Homo sapiens: one gene and its partner. The protein of the gene in region 2 purifies or fractionates together with the protein of the main gene of each other region. This does not show direct contact. Each region holds a gene or a part of one and is shown on either strand. Other genes may lie near its edges. The genes, in order: DUS1L and HJURP.

Evidence for each region.
Region 1: the proteins of HJURP (region 2) and DUS1L purify together in Homo sapiens (affinity purification with mass spectrometry; 2 studies listed by BioGRID and IntAct, with this or other methods). This does not show direct contact.

Annotation. Positions count from the first base shown.
Region 1 is NC_000017.11:82,060,459-82,071,045, reverse strand, and holds the start of DUS1L (tRNA-dihydrouridine(16/17) synthase [NAD(P)(+)]-like), read left to right. Parts: upstream 1-5,241; 5' UTR 5,242-5,433; intron 5,434-5,531; exon of another isoform or gene 5,532-5,692; intron 5,693-5,976; 5' UTR 5,977-5,986; coding exon 5,987-6,223; intron 6,224-6,811; coding exon 6,812-6,920; intron 6,921-7,527; coding exon 7,528-7,578; intron 7,579-8,072; coding exon 8,073-8,185; intron 8,186-9,062; coding exon 9,063-9,145; intron 9,146-9,324; coding exon 9,325-9,428; coding exon of another isoform or gene 9,429-9,489; intron 9,490-9,692; coding exon 9,693-9,837; intron 9,838-10,084; coding exon 10,085-10,181; intron 10,182-10,262; coding exon 10,263-10,345; intron 10,346-10,587.
Region 2 is NC_000002.12:233,835,162-233,845,589, forward strand, and holds the end of HJURP (Holliday junction recognition protein), read right to left. Parts: intron 9,123-10,428; coding exon 9,044-9,122; intron 7,045-9,043; coding exon 5,448-7,044; intron 2,492-5,447; coding exon 2,416-2,491; 3' UTR 1,541-2,415; downstream 1-1,540. UniProt on the Homo sapiens protein: Centromeric protein that plays a central role in the incorporation and maintenance of histone H3-like variant CENPA at centromeres.

The DNA of each region.
Region 1 (10,587 bases), on a different chromosome or scaffold from region 2:
AGTCTCCCAAACTGCTGGGATTATAGGCATGAGCCAGTGTGTGTGGCCTGATTTCTAATTTAATTCCACTGTGGCTAGAGAATAGCTTTCCAATTATTTTAATTTTAATTTTTTTTTGAGATGAAGTCTCACTCTGTTGCCCAGGCTGGAGGGAAAATGTTTTATTGTGTCTTCTTTAATGGCCTAGTATATGGTGTAGCCATGGGTGAAGTGTTCCATAAATGTCTGTCAAGTCAGATTGATTGATAGTGTTTCTCAAATCTCCTACATCTTTGCCAGTTTCTTGTCTAGTTGTCCTATTTCATTATTGAGAGTAAGGTACTGAAATCTTCAACTATTATTGTTAAATTGTCTATTTCTCCCTTCTTTTTTTTCACTCTTTTCATTATTAATTTGGGGGCTCTATTGTTTGGTGCTTATGTGTTTCTAATTGTTACATCTTACTAATGAATGGACATGTTTATCATCATAAAATATCGGTATGGGCTGGGTGCAGTGGCTTACACCTGTAATCCCAGCACTTTGGGAGGTAAAGGTAGGAGGATGGCTTGAGCCCAGGAGTTTGAGACCACTCTGGGTGACAAAGTGAGACCCTCATTTCTACAAAAAACAAAAAAATTAGCTGGACATGGTGATGTGTATCTATGGTCCCAGCTACTTGACAGGCTGAGGCAGGAGGACTGCTTGAATGCAGGAAGTTGATGCTACAGTGAAGCCATGTTCACATCACTGCACTCTAGCCTAGGTGACAGAGCGAGACCCTGCCTCAAAAAAAAAAAAAAGAAAGAAAGAAAGAAAGAAAGAAAGAAAGAAAGAAAGAAAAAGAGTCTGTATGTGTCTCTAGTGATATATTTTATCTTCATATCTATTTTGTCTGACATTAGTATAACCATTCCCGTTCTCTTTTTTTTTTGAGACGGAGTCTCGCTCTGTCGCCCAGGCTGGAGTGCAGTGGCACGATCTTGGCTTACTTCACTACAAGCTCCGCCTCCCGGGTTCACGCCATTCTCCTGCCTCAGCCTCCCCGAGTAGCCGGGACTACAGGCGCCCACCACCACGCCCAGCTAATTTTTTGTATTTTTAGTAGAGACGGGGTTTCACCGTGTTAGCCAGGATGGTCTCGATCTCCTGACCTCATGATCCGCCAGCCTCAGCCTCCCAAAGTGCTGTGATTACAGGCATGAGCCCCTGCGCCCAGCCTCCAGTTCTCTTTTGGGTGCCGTTTATATGGTATATCTTTTCTCGTATTTTCACTTTCAACCGGTTTGTGTCTTTGAGTCTAAAGTGTGTAGATTGTGGCCAGGTGAGGTAGCTCACACCTGTAATCCCAGCACTTTGGGAGGCCAAGGCGGGCAGAAAACCTGAGGTCAGGAGTTCGACATCAGCCTGGCCAACATGGTGAAACCCCATCTCTACTAAAAAGACAAAAATTAGCCAGACATAGTGGTGGGTGCCTGTAATCCCAGCTACTTGGGAGGCTGAGGCAGGAGGATCTCTTGAACCCAGGAGTTGGAGGTTGTAGTGAGCCAAGACTGCGCCATTGCACTCCAGCCTGGGCAACAAGAGGGAAACTCCATCTCAAAAAGATAAATAAAATAAAAAAATAAGGTATATTGAATGTAAAGAGCATATAGTTGGATCTTGTTTATTTCTTAACCCACTCCGAAAATCTTGGCCTTTTACTTGGAGTGTTCATTACCGTTTAATGGTATTATTGATACAGTTAGATTTACATATGCCACTAGTTTTTTTTCTTTGTTTAGTTTTTGTTTTGTTTTGTTTGAGGCAGAGTCTTGCTCTGTCACCCTGACTGGAGTGTAGTGGTGCTATCTCAGCTCACTGCAACCTCCCCCTCCTGGGTTCAAGCGATTCTCCTGCCTCAGCCTCCCCAGTAGCTGGGGTTACAGGCTCACGCCACCACATCCGGCTAATTTTTGTACTTTTAGTAGAGATGGGGTTTCTACTAAATTAGCCCTATGCCTGGCTAATTTCTGTATTTTTACAAAAATTATGTATTTCGTATGTATTTTTTTATTTCTCTGTTCTGCTATTGCCTTTGTTGTGTTAAATGGATATTTTCCACTGTACCATTTTAATTTCTTTTATATATAATATAATGTATTTTCTTTTTTTTTTTTTTTTTTGAGACAGAGTCTCGCTCTGTCATCCAGGCTGGAGTGCAGTGGCGCAGTCTCCGCTCACTGCAAGCTCAGCCTCCCAGGTTCCCGCCATTCTCCTGCCTCCGCCTCTCAAGTAGCTGGGACTACAGGGGACCGCCACCACGCCTGGCTAATTGTTTTGTATTTTTAGTAGAGACGGCGTTTCATCATGTTAGCCAAGATGGTCTTGATCTCCTGACCTCATGATCCGCCCGTCTCGGCCTCCCAAAGTGCTGGGATTACAGGCGTGAGCCACCGTGCCTGGCCTATATAATGTATTTATTTTCTTATGATTACTATGGGGATTTCAACAAGCATCGTAATTTATCACAATCTTCTTCAGATTAATACTTAATTCCAGTAAAACACAGAAACTTTGCTCCAATATAATTCCCTTCCCTCTTCCTTTTTGCTGCATTTTTCATATAATTATATGTCTCTATATATTATAACCTCTTTATAGTTACAAGTTATACACCATAAGTTATATTTTTATTATTTATTTATTTATGTTGAGACGGAGTCTCGCTCTGTCGCCCAGGCTGGAGTGCAGTGGTGCCATCTCGGCTCACTGCAAGCTCCGCCTCCTGGGTTCATGCCATTCTCCTGCCTCAGCCTCCCGAGTAGCTGGGACTATAGGCGCCCGCCACCATGCCCGGCTAATTTTTTTCGTATTTTTAGTGGAGACGGGGTTTCACCATGTTAGCCAGGATGGTCCCGATCTCCTGACCTCATGATCCGCCCGTCTCGGCCTCCCAAAGTGCTGAGATTACAGGCATGAGCCGCCGCGCCCGGCTAAAAGGCAAAAGATTCATATGATCTGGGCTGGGCGTGGTGGCTCATGCCTGTAATCCCAGCATTTTAGGAGGTCGAGATGGGCAGATCATGAGGTCAGGAGATCGAAACCATCCTGGCTAATGGTGAAACCCCATCTCTACTAAAAATACAAAAAATTAGCCGGGTGTGGTGGCGGGCACCTGTAGTCCCAGCTACTCGGGAGGCTGAGGCAGGAGAATCGCTTGAACCTGGGAGGTGGAGCTTGCAGTGAGCAGAGATCGTGCCACCGCCCTCCAGCCTGGGTGACAGAGCGAGACTCTGTCTTAAAAAAAAAATCTTTTACCTTTTACAATTACTGGTTCGATACTGTGCTTAAATATTCTGAACCAGTAGGGCCTCCAGCCTCTGCTGATGGCGCTGTGTGTGGGTTGTGGCTGCATTTGGAATTCAGGTAGTTTTTACAATTTGGACTTGGCTTTTACTTTTTGCTTGTACAAAGCCTCACGTTCAGCCAGGGCGGTGGACAGCTGGGGCCCTCGCCTGTCTTTCCTTAGTGTGCACCCAACCTTGCAGTCCACCAGGGACATCTGGCCACCTCTGAAGACCACCAAGGCTGTTCTATCTGTGAATGCAGAAAATCTGAGACAGGTCTCAGTTAATTTAGAAGGTTTATTTTGCCAAGGTTGAGGACATGCCCATGGCACAGCCTCAGGAGGTCCTGACAACATGTGCCTGAGGTGGTTGGGGCACAGCTTGGTTTTATACATTTTAGGGAGACATGAGACATCAATCAATATATGTAAGATGAACATAGCGGCTAGCTGCGGTGGCTCACGCCTGTAATCCCAGCACTTTGGGAGGCCAGCGGATCACCTGATGTCAGGAGTTCGAGACCAGCCTGGCCAACATGGTGAAACCCCCATCTCTACTAAAAATACTAAAATTAGCTGGGTGTGTTGGTGGGTGCCTGTAATCCCAGTTATTTGGGAAGCTGAGGGAGGAGAATCGCTTGAACCTGGGAGATGGAGGTTGCAGTGAGCCGAGATCACGCCACCGCACTCCAGCCTGGGTCAGAAAGCGACTCCGTCTCAAAAAAAAAAATTGGTTCAGTCTGGAAAGGCGGGACAATTTAAAGCAAAAGCCATCGGGGAGGGAGCTTCCTGGTCACAGATAGGTGATACACAAACGGTTACATTGTTTTGAGTTTCTGATTAGCCTTTTTTTTTTTTCTTTTCCTTTTTGATCAGTCTTGCTCTGTCGCCAGGCTGGAGTACAATGGCTTGATCTCGGCTCACTGCAACCTCCGCCTCCCAGGTTCAAGCGATTCTCCTGCCTCAGCCTCCCGAGTAGCTGGGACTACAGGGGCGCACCACCACACCTGGCTAATTTTGTATTTTCAGTAGAGACAGGGTTTCACCGTGTTGGCCAGGCTGGTCTCGAACTCCTGGTCTCAATGTGCGCCACCGCGCCCAGCCTTCTGATGAGCCTTTTCAAAGGAGTCAGTCAGATATCCATCTATCTCAGCGAGCAGAGGGTGACTCTGAATAGAGCGGGAGGCAGGTTTGCCCTGAGCAGCTTCCAGCCTGAGTTTTCCTTAGTGATTCCGGGGGCCCAAGAGATTTCACATGTTTTAGGTACTGAATGTCCTGGTTCAACTTCGGGCTTCGCTCTCAGATATGGAAAGCTCTGACAAAGCTGCTTTTTACATCTGTTGGGTCTCAAATGCCTTCAGTTTAAAATAACCTTCACATCCACTCTGGGGTTCCCAGTGGGTCCCCACAGCTCGAAATAACCCAAGGAGGGTCCACGGCGGGTAGGAAAGTCGATCGAAGGCTGGCGGCTGCGGAAACCCAGGGCGGGCAAGGAAGGTCCCTGGAGGGTGATTTTCCGCAACGCAGCGGCGGAAAGTGAGTGGCTTTCAGAGGCGGCAGGTGAGTGGGTTCGAGGCAGGGCTCTGGGGCCGCTTTAGGATATAACGGGATGAAGCCCCCAATGCGAACTTGGGGGCTGGGCAGCGCAGGGCCTCAGCGCCCACGGTCTACCCGCGGCCCGGGCCTTATGTGCGCCTCAGCGAGGCCCAATTTCCACATGCCTCGTTTCCAGCGAGCTGTCGGTGAGTCCCGGCGAGCCCCGACCCCTCTCTAGCCACGGCCTGACGGGTACGGTGGTGACCTCAGCCTCTGACCTCCGACCCCGCGCCGCGACCTCTCGTCGCCGGTCCCCTCGGAGCCGGGCGCGGTTTCCGGGGAACGCGTTTCCCGCCGCACCGTGGGCCGCCCGGACCGCGCAGGACCGGGCACCTTCCGGTGGCGGCGCGGAGCCTTGGGCCCGGCTGCGGCCCGGCGGCGGCCCCGGCGCGGTGCGGGCGTTCGCGGCGCCCCGGGAGCTGCAGGGGCCCCGGGCGGCGGCGAGGCCGGAGAGGGGCGGGCCCGGGACACCGGCACCCGGCGCCCTCGGAGCCAAAGGCGCGCGGCGGACACGGCGGGGCCCTCGCGCGGTGAGGACGCGGAGGCGTGTGGGCTCCTGTCACTTCACACAGCAAACGCTGCCCGCCGCGTGGCTCCGGAGGAGTCTCGCGAGGGGCGCCCCTGTGGCGTTTCGGGCCAGCCGGGCCGCCTGGCCGGGTGCGGAGAAGGAAGCTCTGCCCTTCCCCTGGCCCGGCGCGGAGCCGATTCTCCCGGGAAGGGGCCGGGGGTCCTAACTTCACCGCCGGGCGGCCTGCTCAGGGCCAGGCCCGCGGGGACGCTGGCGTCAAGGTTTCTTCCCCCTTCACGCCAGTCCCCTACCAGGCCGACATCGAGTCCCGCTCCCCAGGGAGGGTCAAGTCCCAGGGGTCCAGCGGCTCCCCCGAGGTCCGCTAGGAGGTGGCGGCACTGGAGTGGCCGTTCTCCAGCCTGCACCGACCCCCGCCTTTAGTGCCCCCGCGTGTGACCCAACGGTGGTACTGGAGCGGCCTTAGAAGGGTGACCGCTGCCTCTGAGTTGAGTCTTAAGCCCCTCGTTGGGCCTGGCTGAACCCCGGGTCTGCGCCTTTCCCCCAGCCTGGAGACGATGCCAAAGCTGCAGGGCTTCGAGTTCTGGAGCCGCACCCTGCGAGGGGCCCGCCACGTCGTGGCCCCCATGGTGGACCAGAGCGAGCTGGCCTGGAGGCTGCTGAGCCGGCGCCACGGGGCACAGCTCTGCTACACGCCCATGCTGCATGCCCAGGTCTTTGTCCGCGACGCCAACTACCGGAAGGAGAACCTGTACTGCGAGGTGTGCCCCGAGGACCGGCCCCTCATCGTGCAGGTGCGCAGGAGGGGCTGTGGCCGCGGCCGCGGTTGGGTTCCCGGTCCTGGAATGCCTGGGGAAAAACCCTTCTCTCTGTGGCGGGACATCACTTTCAGCCTTTCCAGAGACAGCTCAATTCCAGGAGGAGAGGGAGAAGGTGGCACCAGGCATGTAGAGTCCACGTAGCCACAGCAGTGATTCCTGTGGTGGAGCCAGGGCTGCCAGGTGCACCTGCCAGAATCCAACCCCATTCTCTAGGAGTGGCTCAGGCAGCCTGGGTGCTGTGAGGTTTGCAGCCCTGCTGGGGCCTCTGGATTGCTGCCTCTCACACTCACACTCCCTCTTCAGAACCAGTGGAGATGGCTCTGCTCTTCAGAAGTCAGTGATTGTGGCTTCTGCCACAGTTCAGAAGAAAATCTGTAAATCCGGGTGGCTTGGGGACTCCTCCCGGCTTTGTCATATTGTAAGCCTCCGCAGGACAGAGCACCCTCCTGCAGTGAACCTGGGCCCACACCCTCATGGGGTCACACTGGACCTCTCGTAGGGCTGGGCAGCAAGGGACTAGGGCCTGGCTGGGCCCGTGGCTGACTCCTGCATCTTCTCCAGTTCTGTGCCAATGACCCGGAGGTGTTTGTTCAGGCGGCTCTCCTGGCTCAGGATTACTGTGACGCCATTGACCTGAACTTGGGCTGCCCACAGATGATAGCCAAGAGAGGTGAGCTCCATGTGGAGCATGGGGGCACCTGGGGCAGGGGCCAGAGCCAGCTCAGTGCAGCCCCAGGTGTGGTGAGCTTGGAGGACGGCAGGCCCTGCCTCTGTCGTGACAGTGGCTCAGGCTGGAGCCAGCTGTCCTCTGTGCTCCGCCTCTGGAGGGTGGCTGTCCTCAGGCCTTGGGGGCTAGGGGCCGAGCCCTACTGGCTCTCTCTTCCCTCAGGGAGCTCCCTCTGCATAAACATGATTGCTGATACAGGGTCCCCATTACCCCCTTGCACTGCTGTGTGTGGGGCTGAGCCTGCTACCTCACCGGGCCCCTGAGGAGGTGTTACTTGGTTCCAGACCGTGCAGGGTGGGGGTTCCATTCAGCACCTTCTGAGCTTAGGCAGCTGGGCAAATAGAGCCCCTGAGTCTGATGCCGACAAACCACTGCTCTGACTGTCCCACTGCCCCAACTGGAGACACTGCTGGTTCTGGGGACCTGTGTCCCGCCTGACAGGGCAGCTCCTGGCCTGCGTGGATGCAGGAAAGGGTGCAGAGGGGGTGCAAGGCTTCGGCCCCACCAGCCTTAACACAGGTGCCAGCCAGGCCATGCTTGCTCCTTGCAGGTCACTATGGCGCCTTTCTGCAGGACGAGTGGGACCTGCTCCAAAGAATGAGTGAGTTGGCTGGGTGGATGGTGAAGGACCCCCAGAGACCCTCAAGAGGGACACATGGGCACTGTCCACTTGGTTGGGGCTCAGGAGAGGACAGGCGTTGGCAGGAGTTCTCAGCATCACCCTGGGGCTTCCTGCCCACAGCAGCCTCTCTGCTGGAAGGAGGTGGCTGTGAAGTTGCCTGTCCTGCACCACCCACCCCTTAAAACCAGACAGTAGGTGCCAGGGCAGAGTCCTTGCTCGGGCCCAGCCCCAGATGTCCTGGGAGACAGAGCCGGCCTTGGCCCTGCTTGTTTGAACTTCGGAGGGCCGGGGGTATGGCGGAGGGAGCCTGCCCAGCAACCTGAGGGAGACACCCAGATGGTGGCCCGGGCTGCCTCCCAGCCTCCCGGCAAAGCTGCCTGGGCTCCGCTGTCTGCAGGGCCCTGGGCTCTGGGGCTTGGCCGCTAAAGTGGGAACACCATGGCCCCCTCAGAAGCTGCCTCTCTTCTCCCCAGTTTTGCTGGCCCACGAGAAACTCTCTGTTCCTGTCACGTGCAAAATCCGTGTCTTCCCGGAGATTGACAAGACCGTGAGGTACGCCCAGATGCTGGAGAAGGCCGGCTGCCAGGTGAGCCCTGGGCTCGCGGGGGTGTCATGGGCCTCAGCTGGGCCTTTGCGCAGAGGACATAGCTGAGGCTCTTCCTGTGTCCAGACACCGTGCACCGTCGGCCTCATGGGGGCAGTGGCCCTCCTGACTGGCCTGTCCCCACTGGCTCTGAGTGCCACCACCCCAAGCCCAGGCCTCTACAACAGAAACTGCTTTCCTGGCTCCAGGGTTTTGTCCCTGTGGAGAGAGTAATGTCGGCATCTCTGACATATTCCTAGTGTCACAGAGGCCGGCAGGGCCTCCTTTGGGGATACTCAGCATCCAGTCTCCCTAGAGGGTGAGGAAGGGGCCACCAGGCTGTCAGCAGAGCTGCTCCCCTGCCCGTGTTCCCCGCACACTGAGCCTGGCCTGGCGCGGGCCTGGATGGGCTGCTGTCTCCGGGGGTGCCCCTCAAGACACTCACCTTCTGAAGGTGGACAGCAACCTTGGTGACCCGGGGATGAGCTTGCACAGGGGCTGCCAGGCCCAGGACCCACTTTCCCCCCCAGTGCCCCACTAGCCTGGAGTCAGTCCCTCCCACACCTTTGGCCTTGGGCAGTGGGGATGCTGCCACTTCCCGGCCTGGCTCTTGCATGGGCCTGGGCAGCACATGCAGCCTGAGGTTCCCACAGAGTGCAGAGGCCTTGGGGTAGGCCCCAGATGGCCATTCCTCAGCCCTGCTTCAGGAGCTGATATGGTGAGGGAAAGGTCCCTGCAGTCGGGCATGGGGCACAGGGCTGGGAGGGGCAGAGGGGGCTCGGAGGGGTGGAGTAGGGGCAGAGGGGGCGTGGAGGGGCGGAGGGGGCTCTGAGGGGCGGAAGGGGCTTGGAGGGGTCAAGCGACCACTGCTCTGTCCTAGTTGCTGACGGTGCACGGACGCACCAAGGAGCAGAAGGGGCCCCTGTCGGGTGCAGCGTCCTGGGAGCATATCAAGGCTGTGCGGTGAGTGGGTGTGGGTGACACAGCCCTCAGTCCTTGGGGCTTTGCTGGGGGTCCCAGCTCCACACCTCAGGGTGCTCGGCACGCCTGACGCCCGTGACCACCCAGGGGGCCGTGGCTGGGGGCAGCATCACCTGGGTGCTGTTCCGGGCGGGTGGAAACAGGCATTTCTCTGCCAACAGGAAGGCTGTGGCCATCCCTGTGTTTGCTAACGGGAACATCCAGTGCCTGCAGGACGTGGAGCGCTGCCTCCGGGACACGGGTGTGCAGGGCGTCATGAGCGCAGGTGGGCAGGGCCCAGGACAGCAGCCAGGGCCCCATGCACACGGCCTGATACCACCGCCCAGGTCGGTGCCTCCCACTGCCTACTGCCCTCCCCATGGTGCTGTTCACAGATGGTGTTCATCAATCCCAGTCTGCTCTGATGGGCCTGAGCTGGCCTTGTCCCTTGTGAGGTGGCACAGAAGGGTGTCCTGAGTGTCCCAGGCTTTCCTGTGCCGTCCACCTGGAGCAACCCACGAGGTGTCCTTCCCCGCTCCTCCTCCCACAGAGGGCAACCTGCACAACCCCGCCCTGTTCGAGGGCCGGAGCCCTGCCGTGTGGGAGCTGGCCGAGGAGTATCTGGACATCGTGCGGGAGCACCCCTGCCCCCTGTCCTACGTCCGGGCCCACCTCTTCAAGCTGTGGCACCACACGTGAGTTGCCCCCTAAGGCAGAAGCCACGTTGGAGGGCCGCCCAGGCAGATTCCGTCAGACCCCACCTGGGGCATTTTGCAGGTTTTGTCAAAACAACTTGCTGCTAAGTCAGGTCTTGAGGGGCTGGGGTGACTTAGGAGTGGAGTTGGGCAGGAAGAGACACAGGTCCCCGTGTGCCCAGTGCTCAGCCTGGGGCCTGACGGTGGAGCCGGGAGCCCAGCCTGCGTGACAGGGCCTCTGTCTCAGGCTGCAGGTGCACCAGGAGCTGCGAGAGGAGCTGGCCAAGGTGAAGACCCTGGAGGGCATCGCTGCTGTGAGCCAGGAGCTGAAGCTGCGGTGTCAGGCAGGTGCTGGGGCTGGTGGGAGCCCGGCCTTGCAGGGGGTGAGGGGCTGGGGCCATGACCAGGGCCTTGGGCTTTTGCAGGAGGAGATATCCAGGCAGGAGGGAGCGAAGCCCACCGGCGACTTGCCCTTCCACTGGATCTGCCAGCCCTACATCCGGCCGGGGTGAGAGCCCAGCCAGCCCTGGGCGGGGATGTGCACCAAGGTGTGGGCTCCACCCTGTGCCCACAGTGCTGCGCCTGCCCTGCTTGTCCTCAGCCATTATGGTCAGTCATCTCCTGCCCAAGGGAAAGGAGGAGGGAGGCCTCGGCTCCGAGCAGCACACACCTTCCACGTGCCCCTCGGTGTCCTTGGTGGAGGATGCTGGTGGCTCAGCTGTGTCCTCCCTCAGTGGACGCTCGGATTTT
Region 2 (10,428 bases):
AATAAAATAACACAAAGTTAAATGACAAATGATAGATGATAGAAGTTAAAAACTGGATTGTTTCATATCATTGGATCCAGAATACATCCAAATCAGGAAGAGGCAAATATAAAACCAGTGTCCTGAGGACATTTAAAAAACCAGGACTCCCAGGAAGACATGCTCAACAAGTCATCAAGAGAAAGCAAACTGTGAAGCAACACATCTTACACCTGCCAGAGCTCAGACTGGCAGCAACTGGCAGCGATAATGTGGGGAAAAGGTACCTCTTATATTGTGGGACATTGGGCAAACTGGGGCAGCCATTTGGGAGAGCAATTTGGCAATAACTATGGAAGTTCAAGGCACACCCATCCGTGACCTGTAATTTGCCTCTAGGTGTGTGTGTGCCACAGATAGTTGACAGTTATGCACAAGGATCACGGGTGGATTTTGCACCCGTCCGCAGACATCCAGGACAATAAACCACCTAGAGAACTCAAAGTGAGATGCCCACATCTATCAGCTCTTGTCATATTCAGTCTCTTGATGAAACAAAACTGTAGCATATGTACAGTATTAATTTACTCATATAGTTTGAAACAGAGAGACTATACCATATATAGTTTATGGGGCCCTTATTGGCAGATCTGTAAGTTGGCAAGACCCATGCCCAGATCCTTCCACCTCACCTTCCTCCACTGGATGACAGAACACCGGCCTTTCTGGCAGCCAGGCCTGGCCCGGGCAGCAAGGTTTCAGCTGTCTGCTGGGTGTGGGGGAAGGAGAGGCACAAGCAGTTCTGGGTTGCAGTGATGGTTTTCCTGAAGAGGAAAGGGTGGGTCGCGTTGTCCTTTAGGAAGCAGCAGGCCTGAGGGAAGGCTCTAGATCTGTAGGGGCCATTCTGGCCCTGGCTGAGCCTGAGCCAGCATTACACTGCCGGCCTGTTCTTTGAGGAAATGAGCCGTCTGTGAGGTCTGCAGCACCTGGCGAGGTTCTCGGCTCTCAGCAGCGTGCACCCTCCTTACTGACTCACAGGCTATGGATTGAATTATGATTAAGTCCTAGCCCCTGGCATGATGGTATTGGAGATGGGGCTTTCTGGAGGTGATTAGGTTTAGATGAGGTCATGAGTGAGGGGCCCTTATGATGGGATTAGTGCCCTCCTAAGATACCAGAGACCTTGCTCTCTCCAGCATGTGGGGACACAGCAAGAAGACAGCTTTCTGCAAGCCAGGAAGAGTCCTCACCGGAGCCCAACCATGCTGGCTCCCTTGTCTTAAACTTCTAGTCTTCAAAAACTGTGAGAAAATAAACTTCTACTGTTTAAGCCACCTGGTCTCCAGCATTGTTATGGCAGCCTGAGCATGCAGGTGCGCACGCACACACACACATAACATGGTCCCAATGTAAGACGCAGGGGGGAAGAGATATGGGGCAGGGTATGGGGGTGATACCTGACATCAGGAGAGCAATCGCCTGGGGCGGCAGGCGGGAATGAAAAATGTGTAATTTAATCTCATTTTAAATCTTTCATAAAAAAAAAAAACCCAAACTCATATGGCCATATATTAACTATTTACTCCAGCATGAGTTTCACCAATGTATTCTGAATATGTGAAATATTTCATTACAAAAACGTCACCATGATATCCTGTCATCAACAGCTTCAGTAAGAATCATGAGGAGTCACAGGCGCTGTGGCTGCAGGAGCGTCTGGGACCACCAGGACTGTTTATTTTCCTTCAAGGGTCATTGCATGCAGGGCTCGAACTTACGTCTCACAAGCAAACAATATTCTCGAATGAAATGGGAAACAGGAGAGAGGATTCTCTGGACATATCTAAATTTAAAAAAGAACACACGGCTGGGAGCAGTGGCTCACGCCTATAATCCCAGCACTTTGGGAGGCCGAGGCAGATGGATCACGAGGCCAGGAGCTCGAGACCAGCCTGGTCAATATGGTGAAACCCCGTCTCTACTAAAACTACAAAAATTAGCCAGGCGTGGTGGCGCGCGCCTGTAATCCCAGCTACTCGGGAGGCTGAGGCAGAAGAATCGCTTGAACCCGGGAGGCGGAAGTTGCAGTGAGCCAAGATTGTGCCACCGCACTCCAGCCTGGGCGATAGAGAGAGACTGTCTCAAAAACAAACAAACAAACAAACAAACAAACAAATAACCCCCCCCCAAAAAAAACACACACATCAGAAAAACAGGCCTATCAAAGAGAACCCTAAAAATTCTAATTGAGCAACTTTATTCACATAATTTCTACACCAAGAACTCGAGGTTATCTCTGATGGAACCAATTTCACTAATATTTACTTTAAGGGCAGAGAAGTCAACCAAGTCCTCACAGTCTCAAGAATCAAAAACAAAACAAAAATACAAACAGAGAGCAAGTGGGAAGATAAATAACACTCCGAAATAACCTAGCTACACACTTTTAGTTTCCAATTTTTCTAGCATGAAATCACTTTTCTCTTCCATCCTGTAAGACGTGTTCTCTCCTCTAGGAAAAAAAAAAGACAAAGAAAATGATGTTAGCAAAATTCTAGAATTCCCAATGCCAGCCACTAAAAGGTTAACTGTTTTCTACTTATTCCATTGCATGTATAAAAATACTTATAGAAAGTGGCATTACGTTAAATAAGTAAGTTATGTTAAAGAAACAACAAAAATATAATGGCAACCCCCCGACCCTGCTCCCCACACTCCCCCAGGGAGCACAAGCTGGTGGGGAAGTCCACATCCCACACCCTGGCCCAGCTAGCGCTGCTGCACGAGTGAATTTAGGAGTTCTAAGACTTAAGCTACTTTTCCATATCTATTAAAAGGAGAGACAGCCTGCCTATTGGACAGAATCGATCTAATCAAGGGGTTCTGGTGGGGATGAAAGAAGATAAGACGTAAAAACGGTTCAGCATGGCCTGGCACACAGAGAGCACTCAGACGTTAGGCATGAAAACTCCATATGTAGTTGCAGCTCATGAAGAATTGGTCTCTTTCCTCAAGAAATCTATCATTTAAGCGGGAAAAGCAGAAAAACATAGGAAACCAGTTAAACATGTTTATATTGTGGTTTAAAATGAAACCTGGGGTGTTCATGATTTGACTTGCTATCAAATTCCAGGGTAGCTGGGAGGGCCCTGCGGGGCCACCAAGGGCTGAGTCCTCAGGATGGTCCCACAATAATGCAACCTCACACCATTCTCTACAAGGCCGAGGTCCCTCCTGTGTGGCTGGGCCAGAAGAAAGCCCTTTAGACTGAGCAGGTGAAAAAGCAAGGCAGGAGCCTCTGCACGGAGCACTGGGGCAGATGTCACTCATGGAAAGGGGTCTGCAGGCGACTGGCACGGTGCCAGATCATGGAACAAGGTGGGAAAAGGCACGAGACAAAATCCCAGGGGCAGGATGATGGTAAAAGGAAGAGCTGGGGCACTATCTGAGAAAAAGCAGTTAGGTTTAGACAAGCAGGACGAGCAGAGCAGAGGAGCTCTGATGTGTGGGAGACCAGGAGAAACCTCAGATCTCTCTCTGGGCCGGACAGTTGTTTTTGGTGAAATTCTCCCCTTTCAACTGAGAAGGAGACTCTTGAGAGGTCATCTGTTAAACAGAACGCATAAACTTTGCCTCAAAGCAGCCTCCATGAAGTGTCTGCCATGAAGATGTAGCTGAGATTCTTGAAGGCTTCACTAACTGTGGCTGAAAGTCACCCGGCTGGTGGTTTGGTCTGAAAAAGCCCCAAGTGGGCACAGGAGTGGGCATCAGGCACACAGTTGGAGACCAAGACCCGAGGGAAAGACTGCTGTTAGCCGTGCACTGCCAGGGGAGGAGCTCCGAGGGCCCTGCCCACACAGTGCCCCTGACCCTAGCTGGGGCCCTGCAGAGAAAAACCTTTCCCATCACCTGAACACTTACGTATGTCCATCCTCAACTGGGAAGACAGATGACAACCAAGGCTTGTTTCATCTGCTTCTGGTTAGCTCACACAGTATGACTTTATACACGAAAATAACTTTGAAAACCAAAACATCCAACAAAACCTGGGAGCTTCTAGAACTGAGCCAAGGAGCCTGAGCCGCTAACCCATGAGACTGGTCTGTGTCCAGACAGCTCCCCACTGCAGCACCCACCATGTGCAGCCCCTGGGAGGGTGGGGGTTACCTGCACGGAGCAGGCAGCTGAGCGGTGGGTGGAGTCTAGGGAGGATGTCCGAGGATGCAATAGCAAAGAACTGGGGAGTAGGGGGAGAATGCCAGTGAAAGTTCCCTGGAAGGGAAGGGCTGTCCTACGGCAGACCCTGGAGCAGGTGGCCCTGAGCAGTCCAAGGGCATTGGGAAGACAGAGTGACAGTGAGAAAGGCCCCAGGGGGCTCAAGCCACAGGAGGCCGCTGGCGGTCTGAGAGTGTGGTCTCTGCCATGCACAGGCGGGACTGCAGGCTTCGAAGGCAGGCACCACAGAAGGAACAAGGCATACCAGACCTTGGTTCTGAGCTGGACGCACGGCAGGAGCCAGTGGCTGAGAAGGGCTCGCAGGCCAGGCGGGTCCAGGTGGGAGAAACAGAAAATGGGACACTTATGGCAGGCAGGGTCCACCCAAATGACCTCAGAGAAGAGGCACATCGCCAGGCTAGGGCACAAGGGAAGAGGATACTGGAGACACGGCCTCACCTGCTGGAACCACAAACACACAAAACCCAAAGGAACCGGCCAAATCAAACCCACAGTCAAGTCCCGTCCACCTGTGGGTTAAGAAAGTCGCATCCTCCAGATCCTGACTGTGGACACACAGAGAAGCTGTGCTGGGGAATCCAACCTTTAATGCCAACAAAGGTACTCACTCCCACTGACCCACCCCACCCCACTGTCTCTAGAGAAAAGGGCACACGCAGACTAAAACTCTAGCTGACATGATTCGCACAAATTAAGCTGCAGAACAAGGTGCAGAAGTTTTAACACTGAGCACTGAGATATCTGCAGGGCACCCCTCGCACCTGTGAGAATACTGTGCTCGTGGCTCTCCCAGGCCACTCTTGCTCTTTCCCTACCAGGAATCCAGAAATAGGAAGTCATTCGCTTTAGATCACTTTCGCCTTACAACAGCTATTTTCTGAGTGTCAGATGAAGAGGTTAGAAATGAAGGTTTGACAAAGACGAATAAAGCGTAGTAAGTGAGGATTTGCAGGAAAAAAGCCTCTGAATGCATTCTAATGGAAAGTGTGAAACTTCTGCAAGAGCACTTTCTGCTTTACCTCGATGCATCTTACACAGGGACACATTCTTGATAGAGACGCTGACTTTACAGGAAGGAAAAGCATTTGGGAGAAAGCTCAGAAAATGATCACGTATGTAAGAATTCGGCTGAGATTCACTAAACGTGGCGCAAAGATTCCTACCATAAAAAGCCTCTGTCCAAAGAGCAGTCACTCACATAAACCACATTCAACCAACAGAAACACACCTACCTCTCTTCTGAGTTGGGCTGTGAAGAGCTGCCCTGGTCTCCCGGTCTGACGGTGTTGTCCACCCCATCTGAGGCACCCAGGGAATTGCCCTGGCGTCCGGAGCCCTGGGGTTCTGATAGCCTGGGTCTTTTTGCAGGGAACTGATGGTCCCTCGTGCCATCCCTCGTGATGGCACGAGCAACACATGTAGATGAAGGAGCCTCAATTGCAGTTGAGCCCAGTAGACTTTTTCTGCACCCCAGGGGTGATGATGGCAACTTCTGGAAACCCTGGAAGTGAGGGTCTGGATTTAATTTTCCTAAGAAGCCTTCTGTTTGATATCGAACTTCCATACTTGCTTTATCTGTAGACACTCCAATACATAAAGGCACTGTCATCTGCCCAGGAGATTTGAGGCAATACTTTTGATGAAGCTTGTCAAATTCTTCTTTAATTTCATCGTAACGATTCCTTCCGTGGCCTGGCACTTCTTTATCTGGGACTGAAAGAGTTTTGCTGGGTGACACTGACTTTCTAAATATTCCAGAACTATTTCCCTGAACGTGAAGGTCAGATGTCTGCTGCGGGCGAGTTGCGCTGTGTGTGGGGTTGGTCTTTGGAAGTGATGAAGATGAATCGCTCTTGGGCAGGCACCTACCTGCTTCCAGAGATCTTTTGCCTAGGTTTTCAAAAGCCTCACTTAAACTTTTTGCTTTTGCTTTGCTGGAAGGTAAACTCAGCCTGCGGGTTTCTAAGCCCTGAAGGCCACCAGGACTCGCAGGACCCCCTCTGTACATGTTCATGGCCCAGGAGTCCGGGAGGCACATCCGGCGAGGCTGGTTCCTGGGACTCAGGCAATATTCCCGATGAAGCTGATCAAATCGGATTTCAATCTCCCTCTGACGGTTCTCTCCATGGCCCTGTCGTATTGTTGGTCTGGAAACTATTTTTACAGGAGAAATTAACCATTTTAATGTCCTAAATCTATTTTCCTCATCAAGATTATATGTTGCACTGGAGTCGAAGTAAATCAAGGAAGAATACTTCGAGGGTGTCACTTTGCGCTCCTTCCAACTTGGATCTAACTTATGGATTTGGGGTCTGTTGACTTCAAGAAAAGCTTTTTCCAATTTTAAACCTGTCTTACGGCAAGAAACATCTAATACGTTCTTGCAATCTCTTAATGCCCCTGTCCCTTTCACAGGCTCAGAGCAGGGTATGAAGTTCTCCTTGGAGCTCCTCTGAGAACGTCTGGCTCCTTTGCAATATGTTTTGTTCATCCTGCTCTTATATCTGTGCCTCCTCCTGGAGTTCCAGTTTTGCATGATGAACGTTTTGGTGGAGATGATGCTTGATGGCTTTGTGCTCAACAGCCGGCTCATGGAGTGCAGCATCCCTGCGTACAGGTCACTGATGGTCACATTGCAAATGTCATCATCTTCAAAGGGCTGGCTGCTTAAGAAGCTGCTGCTACTGGTCTCTTGTAGGGAGAGGCTGTCATTTCTAGGTACTAAGGCCATGTCTGTGGAGGAAGGATGCAAAGGATCCCATTCTCTGGGAGATGAAGCTGGTTTCGCTGGGTCACCAGGACTCTTTCTGGAGATACGACTGCAGTATCCTGGGAGAAAAGATACACATAAAGTAAAGGTGTGTTACCATTCTAAACCATCCATGTGCACAGATGACAGAACTTAAGATTGGATCAGGACTATGTTTTTTTAAGCAATAGCAAAAACAAAAACACCACAAATGTGTAGGAGTAGACTCTTCTCAGAGATATTTTTTGGTATCAAAATTTGATTTCTACTCTCCATCGTACATTTCCCAAAGGTGTCTTCCTTTCCCTCTAGGCTGTTTAGAAGATGGATGCCTTTTCAAAAGCTAATTAGAAACTGAAAAATGACAACACTGTTTACCTACATGGATGGGAAGGGGTGTAAGACTTCTAAACAAACCTCTTCATATAGCTTTGACTTTTGCATCATGTAAATGTTTCCTATATTTAAAAAAAAAAAACCAACAGTGATGGGAAAAAACCATAAAATTGAACACAAACAAAAAAAAAATCTGTATGTTAAATTGATAAAGAGAAAAAAAAAGAGTCCAAATACTCTGAGTGTCTGCCTCTTAAAGAGATATTGTCTAAGGATAAAAAGAGCTGCTTGGAAATTTTCAAGCTTATTTAGTAGATGGTTGTGAAGAGTGGTAGCAGGTGCTGCAATGCTAGAGTTATTTTATGCTGTACAATTGACCAGATGAGCACGTGTTAACTCACTGCGGCTGGTGAGAACTGGGAGAGGCAGATATGGCATCAGGGCAGGGGTGAAGAAGTGCTCAAAAACGCATGTCGTTGCACTACACGACACAAAAGCCAGCCTGAAAGGGGCTCCCTGACAGCTAAATCTGGGGTTACTTGAGCGTCAAATTGCATACCGGCAATGGATTATAACATGTGAATCAAAGAACAAAAAGACTCCATGAATTCCTACTGATCCTAAAAAATAAAAATAAAATAAATCAAAGCATGAGAGGGAACTACAGGAAGCAAAAAAAAGAACCAGAGGGGAGATAGCTCTTTTGAGCAGAATAATGCCAACTGACGTGTGCCAAGGAACGGCAGAGACAGAAACAACCTGGGCGGGGACCTCCACCCAGGCGATCCGCATTGCTGGCTTCTAAGTCACTGGGTGAGAAGCTTTTAGAGAAAAGGTTCCTAGGAGATCTCAAAGAATCACACATAGATGACTCCAGGGAAAAAGGGCCTGTCGCAATGAGAAACATCGAAGTAAGGTCTTACCTTAACTCAATGACCAGCCTAAAAGTCACCAAGAATGGGACAGACTGACCAAATGTTCTGAGAGGACACGTCATCCCTGTAGTAATTTTGCCAAAAATGTTTAACGTGAACCTAACCACGAGGAAGCAATCAGGTCCAAATTCAGGGACATTCTGCAAAATTACTGGCCTGTGCTATTCAAGAAAGGCAATAATATGAAAGGTGACCATGAGGGAGAAAATGCCAAGGAGCCGCTCTTGATGGAGGGAGACTAAACGCAACGGTGGTACCAGCCTGAGTGGGTCCGGAAACGATCAGGCAAACCAGAAAGGCTGCAAAGGACGTCACTGGCACAATGGGTAGAACAGTACCGCATCAATGTTCAATTTCTGGCCTGTGTTAAGCGTACTGTAGTCATAAAGGAGAATTAGCCGATTTTTGGAGGTATGTGTGAGGCATTTAGGGATAAATGCATACACAAATGCAAATAAATACACACTGTGTGTGCACGTGTGTGGCAGGGGGTGATAACGCAGATATGACAACATGTTAATTGTGAAACAAGTGAAGGGTGTTCACTGTACTAGTCCTGTGCTTCTGGAGATGCAAAACTTTTCAAGCTAGTAAACTGGAATAAAGAGCAGACGTGGAGGAGAAAACAGCTCATTTTGAAACATCTTAATCTTCCAGTGAAATCCAAGTATATCTCTAACAAGTTATGTTGATGAAACACACCAGGAAATGATGGCGTGGCCAGTATGAGCAGCTCTGAGGGGCCACGCAGCTCCAACAAAAGTGAAGGAAACACGCACTGTTCATACAGTTTCTATGTCACACTCACCGGGGGCAGGCACGGCAGGTGAGGCCAGTGAAGGCAGCGGAGTCACACGTACATCCCTTCCAGCTCTGTTACCTGCACACTGAAATCAGAGCCAGTGGTTACAAGAAAAAAGTTGCCAGGTGTCAACTGGGTGCAAGGAGCTGGGTTCTCCCCTGACGATGCGGACTGTGCATCTTAGCACAGCCATGTCGACAAGCGTGTGAATGTGGTGACAGTGGCCAGCTAGGCTTCGGGCAGTGGGAAGAAAATATGTCCTACTAAGATCTGGACAGTTGATGTGGTCTCCAGGATAGCTTCCAGCCACAGTCACCACTCACCTGCCAGTAACTTCTTACCCCAGGGGCGCTGGTAGCTTTCTTTGTCTAGCATTATACTCAGACCACAAGAACACCTAGGGGCCAACCGGACGGTGGACAAAGAAGACCCAGTAGATCCGTTCGTTCCTAACCCTAATCTGTTCCCTGGATCAACACAGCAACCAAGAGGACACCACTTGCTGCCTTGGGTTAAAGGAAAAAGCATTTCAGGTACATCCACTAAGTCGGTGGTCCACAAATACAGGCTTTCCGCTGGTCAGCAGCACAGTAAGAAAACACATACACCCCTGTGAGATTGCTGCCTTTTTCTGGAGATGAATTCTTATTCTGCAATGTGTACTTCCTAAGTATTTGGTGTTGCAATGTCCTTTATTCTATGGCAGAGGGCACTGACCTTAAGAGAGGGGTTGGCAGGTGAGTGTGCCCACCTCTCATGCCATCACATCCCCCCCCTCCCAACATGACCTCTCAGCAGGCGGGACAGGTGCCAAGGGTCAGCCTCCTCACCTTGCAGCTGATTCTAGCCTGATCGCACCAGGGAATGTGGGGACTATTGCTTCCCTAACTATGCAGCTTCAAATCCTGGTCCAGAGGTCAGGGCTGCTCTTAAGAGTCCCGTGTGTGGCCCCAATAGATTTTTTTTTTTTTGAGATAGAGTCTTGCTCTATCACCCTGGCTGGAGCACAGTGGCACAATCTCAGCTCACTGCAACCTCCGCCTCCTGGGTTCAAGCGATTATCCTGCCTTAGCCTCCCAAGTAGCTGGGATTACAAGCACGCACCACCACACCCAGCTAATTTTTCTATTTTTAGTAGAGATGAGATTTCACCATGTTGGCCAGGCTGGTCTCAAACTCCTGACCTCAAGTGACCCACCTGCCTTGGCCTCTCAAAGTGCTGGGATTACAGACATGAGCCACTGTGCCTGGCTGCCCCACTAGATTTTTCTGTGAGTTGCCCCAGAACAGTGGGCAGAGCACCCCTGCCAGGGCTCCCACCTTCCTGATGGCGCTGCCCTGGGGGACCTGGAGTGTTTATTCAAGAAGAGCAAGTATGTCAGCATGTGAAT